Linked DNA regions of Homo sapiens. The protein of the gene in region 2 purifies or fractionates together with the protein of the main gene of each other region. This does not show direct contact. Each region holds a gene or a part of one and is shown on either strand. Other genes may lie near its edges.

Region 1 (3,750 bases), on a different chromosome or scaffold from region 2:
TGCCATAGAAAGCAGTAGTAAGACTTCTTATATGAGACTAAGATTTTCATTTCATTAGCTCTCTCCTTCACCTTGTTTATTAATTCTACAAGCATTTATTGCCATCTCCTATGTGCCAAGCACTGGTCCAGGCTCTGGGGATACACTATGAACAAAATACAGTGAAGTCCCTGCCCCATGGAGCTTACATTCTAGTAGGGGGAGACAGACAAACACATAAATACAAAATATCAGAGGGTTCAAAACAGCTTAGAGGTATCTTGCCTGAATTCTGTTTACTGCATATCCTCATTCTTGGGCAATGATAAAGTGAAGAGAGAGGCCAACAATGGGCTGCAGCAATGTTGCTAGTCCCAGCTCTACCATCTACACATTGAGTGGATTTAAGTGAGTTCTCATCTGATCTGAGCCTCAGTTTCCTCATCTATAAAATGGGGAGAAATTGGATTAAATTACTTATAAGGGAAAGGGTCCTTTCAGGCTTTTTTCATGAGAGTAGGGTGCTGAAAATCAAGAGCCAGTTTGTTGACTCCTCTAAGGTTTAAAAAATATTTAAATATAAAATCTAAGAAATCCTTAGAGATCCCATACACTCAATACTTCAAATGCCAATCTGAACTTCTTTCATCAATAGCAAATTCTTATTTACAATGGCTATAGAATGAAGTCATTTTACCATCTTTAGCCATATGAAAAATAAGTTATTTACTTATAAAAACATTCATTTTTATTATTGGTTACAAAATCTCACCTTATTTGTGAAATGTTCCCTAGCTATGAGATCCTGCCCTTGATGTGACACTATTTCTCTCTTCTGCTAACCCCTATCCCTGACTTTGTGCTCCTGTTTAATTTTTCCAACTGAAGTATTAGCTTTATGAAAACAGGGATCGGCTGCTTGCTTCTTTGAAGAACAACCCAAATGAGAGTATGTCCAGGTAATCCATAGACATGTATAATCATTACACCTGCATTTTGTTTTACAGGTACAGGCCTTTTGGTAACCCACATTAGCTCTTTAGACTGTCAGAGTTGTTCAGCTTAGTAAAATTTAGTTTATCAAAGGGTACTCTAACATCCGAAAAGGAAAAACACGTTTCCAGACTAATTCACAGACTAGGGCATTGTAACTTCACTGGAAGCCCTGGTGAGAGGCGTTAATACATATTTAATAATGTAAGTGAAGTAGCACATATTTTATAATCAATTAATTTTTCTCAAAGAAGATAATGTAGCAGAAGACCTGAATGTCAAACAAGGTTAGACTCATACTTACTAACTTGGTAGGAGTTACGATGCCTCTGATTCTCTTGAAAGACAAACTGTATTCACTAGTTTGATTTTGAAATGTAGAGATCAAATTTCAATCAACCCAGCAGCTAAGGATGACAGGAAATTTTACAGGACTAGAAGGAATCATCTTCTCTTATCTGGATCTGATCCTCCTCGACACCTTGGGGGTTTCCGAAGGCTGTGTGCTCTCAGTTTTAGCTGGTTGTTACGTAATCAAATATCCCATGCATGTTTTTACATTTGATCAGGTGGGCCTAATCACAAGGACTCATGTTGTCAGTGCCTTTGGGAGCAAAATGAAATAAATCTCTGTCTCAATATTGGAATTTATTCCTTCCTGTTGCTTAGTGGTGTCAAGATACAGTGTCAATGTTACCAGAAGTGCCTAACACAGTCTACTGTGTAGGCTAAAGTCTGCCGTGTTCGTACAGTGACTGAAAAGGAATAATGACTATATCCTCATTTGGGTGAATGTTACTACTTCAGGACCAGATGAGCAGGGGCATCCCATGTAACCATGAAGAATCTTGAAGCAGCATTACAACATCTAATAATAAACAATCTCTCAAACAGTGCCTGTATGAACTGCAAGATGAGGGCAGGTCCAGCTAGACATTGGCTGCATAAATGAAGATCAGAGAAGAATAAGGAGATTCAGACAACTTTTGGCAACCTAGATCACAGTTACTGGTAAATTCTTGTTACAAAGGAAATGGATTTTGGTATACGGAATTTGAATATGTGTTTTACTCAACAGAGTACATGCTACCAACAAGAATGCAGCCCCCTTTTTACAAGTTAGGCAGAAGGAATTATAAAGTCTTGCTGATGTTTACAGTCCTTACATCAATGTGACTGCAGCCCTCCCCAGTCATTCCAAAAGGTCCTTGGGTTGGATACGAGAATGCGTCAGGCCTGGCTTTGGCTATGACATCCCCAGGAAGTCACTGTGTGCAGTGTGGTCTCCAGGGTGGAAGTCTTTGAGCTGCCAATGAATATCTCTTAAGTCCAAACCTCCATGGGCACTATGGCCTCTTTGGTCCCAACAGAAGGCAGTAGGCTTTCTTCAGACAAGAAATAAAAGGGGAATTGCACCAAAAATCCACGGATCTTCTTCAGTTCCTCCTCAGCTCGAATGGGATCTTCCTTAGCTAATACGGGCTTGTTTATAAAGTCTCTCAGCTGAATTAAATTGTGTACTTCATCATTGGGAAGGCACCGGAAAACCTGATTAGAGCATAAATAGAAAAATGAGTGAAAAGTTTAAAAGCGAGCACATGGCCTTTATGGAAAATAATTATTCCAACAGACAAGACCTCTGTTGTATGAAACATATTATTAGTCTTATGTTACAGCACAGACCTGATTTAAGAGTTGGTTATCTTATAACCAACAATAGATAGATCTGCTACAAACAGATAGATCTGCTTCCATTTAAAAAATCATGGTTAGTGGCAAGAAATTACACTAATGTTACCCCACATTAAGGTTAATTTTTTTTGGATAATAATCATCCCTGAATTTCACTGGAGCTTCTGGTCTAAGAGGAATATTGCATATTATATTTTCCCTAACTTTTCTTGAAAGAGGCTCATATCTGTACCTTTACATAGCATTATCAATTGTTAATATGTAACACTTACTTTGCTGGTTGAAAATGAGTTTTGGATATCATAACACTTCACCCCTGAATACTTCTCTGCAGGTATGTCTTAAGAATAAGGACATGTGCCTATATAATCACAGCACTATTCTCACACCTAAGAAAATTAATTATATAATGTCATTTAAGTTATGCTTCATATTCAGATTTATCCTGTTATCCCCAAAATGTCTTTTATAGATGTTTTCCCCCAAATCCAGGACCCAAATAAGGCTGTGCACTGCATTTGTAAAATTACATTTTAATGACTCTATGCACATGACCTATTTGATCATGGCCTTCGGTCCATGAAATAAGGATGAAATAAGGTTATACAGGGGTCAGGCGCATTGGGTCATGCCTGTAATCCTAGCACTTTGAGAGGCCAAGGCAGGCGGATCACTTGAGGTCAGGAGTTCAAGACCAGCCTGTATCATAATACAAAAATTAGCTGGGTGTGCTGGTGGGCACCTGTAGGCCCAGCTACTCGGGAGGCTGAGGCAGGGGAATCACTTGAACCCAGGAGGTAGAAATTGCAGTGAGCCGAGATCATGCCACTGCACTCCAGCCTGGGCAACAGGGTGAGACTCCATGTCAATTAAAAAAAAAAAAAAAAGGAAAGAAAGAAAAGAAACAAGGTTATACAGACAGTAGACATGTTTCATTAAGAATAATAAGTTTCTCTGCTGGAAGGGGCTCTAAGAGAAAAATTGCGTATTTTCCCTAATTTTTTTTTTTAAAGAGGTTCACGTCTGTCCCTGGAAGTCATGAAGAAGAACACAGACTTATCCAACTTCTCACAGATGGTCAATTAG
Region 2 (3,750 bases):
AAGACGACTTGTGTGTAATCCACATCCTCTGTGGCCTTAGGAGAAAAGCAGAGACATGTGGGTCAAGATCCCTACCACGTTTGGGGGAAATAAGACCCCAGGACTGAACTCTTACTCAACAAGATTCGCCCATGGCTTGGTGGGGAAGATCTGGGTCCAAATAGCTGTGTCTGGGAGCAGTCCAGGGCAATGAGGAAGATTACCAGTGACTTTGTTCCACCTGTCTGCAGGGAATGGGATTACAGACGAGCAGGTGGAGGCAACAGGAAGATGCTGAGACTCAATTCAAGGGAGATCAGGACTCAGAGCAGACTTGAGCCCAACAACTGGGGTGTGGGGAGAAGAGGGTTTCCCATTAGCACTTTCATTTTTACAGTCTGTTCAGACCCACTTTGTTTGGGTGATCCATGCAGATATGGGTTATGGGTGGAAGCCTGACCCCCCCTCACCTGAGGATGCTGTGATGACTCAAGAAACCCTCTTTTCTTGCTCCCACTACATAGCTGGGGTAACTTGAGTTTTCAGCGTTTTACAGCAGGGATCCCCAGACTGCATATGTTCGTCTGAGATCACTAGGCACATCCATTACCTGGCAGGCAGGAGGCGAACTGCAGGAGCTATCCAAGCTATCTGAGGGTGTGTCGCTGTCATCTGGGGAGAAATAGAAACGGTTCCTCTTCCAAAGCAAGCCAGAGGGTGTTAAGAGAGGATAGAGACAATGGAAGGGAGAATTGTCTTATTATCAGATAAAGACAGAGGCAGAGCCAGCAACAAAAAGGGGGGGTAGGGAAGAGAGATACAGAGACCCCAAAAGAGGAAGAAGGAGAAACAGAATAGGGGAAGAGTAGGGGGAGAGAAAGTCTCCAAAAATAGGCAGGGACATGTCCAAGAGGCCAAGCACTGCTGCTTCATTCAACTCCATCTAAAACTAATGTTAAAAAATACACTAGGTTGACTGTGCTTGGAAAGGGCTGTCTTCCAGAAAGAAAAGTCAGGAGGAACATGCTGGGACAATGTGACCCAATGCAAACAGCTCTGGCCTCAGAAGTTACACCTTCTAGTCCAAAGCTGTCACTAAATCTAGGCAGATCACATCTCTTTTTGTGCCCTGGTTTTCGTCACCCCCAAGACAAGAGGGTTGAACAAGAGTCTCTGAGGTCCCTGACAGCTAAACAATCTCTGATTCTAGCCAGGCTCTGGTGAAGCTTTGGGGCCAGGGGTTAGGGTAAGGCCAGTGCCTCTCCAGTTCTGTTGAAACATGCATATGAGCAGCACCCTCAGGTCCCCACAGGCAGGCACTGAGGCCATGTCTCAACTGAAAAGATAAAATCAGGACAGAGCAAATTCAAACCAATCAAGAGACAAACCAGTGGAAGAAGTGCAATCTCTGGTGAGTGAGCCCCTATCAGGGAGTTGCCTTGTTGCCAAAGCAGCCACTTCCACTGTGAATAGTGACCTATTGGCTCACTTGCAGGAGGGTGATATAGATTTGAACCAGCAGCAAGATTCACATTTATACACTCAGATACCCATGCAGATCTAAGACCATGAAAAAGGGTCCCTCTAGGGACTATGGAGGAGCCAGCTACAGAGCCAGCCAATAACACTGACATAGCAGCAGCCACGGTGGAGGCAGGCAGAGGCAGGTGAAATTTTAACTCCACCATTAGCTGATCAATCCGAAGAAAAGATGCCATGGCTTTACAAAGAGAAGAGCAGGGACATTTCCCAAGCCGCCTGCAATCATTTGCACACGACTAAACCCGGGAAAGAACTTAGACCCACACAAACTCAGAATGATCTTCCCCACGAAATAGAATAAAACACCTTTCTGAAAAAAAGTAGGCTGGCAAGGCTGTCCTGATGTGGCTGTGAGGAATCCTCAGGCTAGAGGTTTGGGCCCATGGGGTTGCTGCAGGGAGGTCCTGGGTGTCCAGAGAGAGCAAAGTTAGTCCCTAGACAAGTTCTCCCTCCAACCCCTTACTCACGCCTGTAAAGGGAATCAGACATTGGGATGTCTCTCTCTGTCTGAGTCTCCTTCATCTCTTTGACAGCAGGTGGATGATGGTGGCCAGGGCTGGGCCTGGGAACCTGGAGACTGGCCGCTTTCAGTATCTGTTCACTCTTGTGGGCTGGAAGGGAGAGGGCAGGGATCAAAAGTGGAAACTGGCCAGGCGCAGTAGCTCATGCCTGTAATCCCAGCAATTTGGGAGGCTGAGGTAAATGGATCACTTGAGGTCACAAGTTCGAGACCAGCCTGGTCAACATGGTGAAACCCCATCTCTACTAAAAATACAAAAATTAGTTGGGCATGATGATGCGTGCCGGTAATGTCAGATACTAGGGAGGCTGAGGCAAGAGAACTGCTTGAACCTGGGAGGCAGAGGTTGCAGCGAGCCGAGACTGTGCCACTGCACTCAAGCCTGGGGGACAGAGTGAGACTCCATCTCAAAAAAAAAAAAAAGTGGAAGCTGCCTGGGTTAGGCACATCGGCTCTTGAATCAGCGCCTGTTGAACACTGCCCTCAGTAAAGCAAACCTTTCAGAAAGATCCCTTCAAACCTCAGCACTGCTGTGCTCAAAACCCTGCCATGGTTCCACGCCTCACTTGGAAAAAGCCAAGTCCCAGCCTCCGAGGCCTCACTCCTCCTTCCTCTCTGGCTTTCTCCTGCTTCTCTCTGCCTGCTCCAGCTGCCCAGCCTCTTTGCTCTTGCTAGCATGTGCCTAACACGTTCCTCCTTCAGGCCTTTGCAGGTAGAGTTCACGCCTCACTCCCTGCAAGTTTATACTCAAAGGTTAGCCTTTTGGGGATGCCAGCCATCCACCAAGCTGTATCAACTCCCTTGTTCCATTTTTCCTCCCTAGCACTTACCATAATCTAGCATATACATGTTTTACTTGTTTATCTTGTTTGTTGTCACATGGAATGAAAGATTCCGGGGGTAGGAATTTTTGTTTTGTTCCCTGTTGTGTAGCCTAGGCCCAGAGAGTGTCTTAGATGCTCAAGAAATATCTGCTGAATGAATGAATGAACAAATGAATGAATGAAGGTAGACTTAACTAGAAAGACCCTCAAAACATCATCTTGCCCCGTCCTTTCTCTTAGCACAACCAAAGCAGCATTGTTTTATTTTCCCTAATTGAAATGCCTTTCCAGGACCGAGCTTCACTACCTTCTATTGTTTATCAGTTCAAGAATTTAAACTAATCTCTAAGTCCAACCATATTTCCTTCTGTTGTAATTCAAGGACATTTCTTCATATTCAGTCCTTTAACAGGGATGAAGAAAATTAATTAGACCAGGTTACACGAGCACTTCCTCGTAGGCATTGCAAAAGCTGTGTCTAGGCAGAAGGTCTGGGTAGTAGACGGATGTGGATGGCCACTTCCAGCCAGAAATAGTTGGTTAAAAGGTGAGGTCAGAGTGGGGATTACCCAGATACAGTTATTGGGGGGAGGGGGAGCGGTGGGAAGGAATTTGGCCGGTGGGTCCTCTGGTAGGTTTTTGAGTGACGTTTGGGAACTCCAAAGGGGTCTTGTCCTGCTGGAGGCTCGAGAATGGTCTCTGAGAGTGACTAGGAGGGAAGAGGATGCTGAGCCAGTTACCCATGTGCCTGCTGAGCAGGTAGTTGATGGCGGTGAGGAAGCAGGCCTGCAGGAAGAGGGACACCACCGCGATCACTAAGCCATGCCAGACCTCCATGACTCTGTTGGGAAAGAAAAAGGGGCAAAGTCAGAGATTGCAAGGATG

What was found.
Region 1: the proteins of RHEX (region 2) and PLD1 purify together in Homo sapiens (affinity purification with mass spectrometry; 3 studies listed by BioGRID and IntAct, with this or other methods). This does not show direct contact.

Annotation. Positions count from the first base shown.
Region 1 is NC_000003.12:171,600,783-171,604,532, forward strand, and holds part of PLD1 (phospholipase D1), read right to left. Parts: intron 2,521-3,750; coding exon 2,296-2,520; 3' UTR 1-2,295. UniProt on the Homo sapiens protein: Function as phospholipase selective for phosphatidylcholine. Implicated as a critical step in numerous cellular pathways, including signal transduction, membrane trafficking, and the regulation of mitosis.
Region 2 is NC_000001.11:206,098,037-206,101,786, reverse strand, and holds part of RHEX (regulator of hemoglobinization and erythroid cell expansion protein), read right to left. Parts: intron 3,707-3,750; coding exon 3,606-3,706; intron 2,133-3,605; coding exon 1,989-2,132; intron 652-1,988; coding exon 590-651; intron 36-589; coding exon 1-35. UniProt on the Homo sapiens protein: Acts as a signaling transduction factor of the EPO-EPOR signaling pathway promoting erythroid cell differentiation.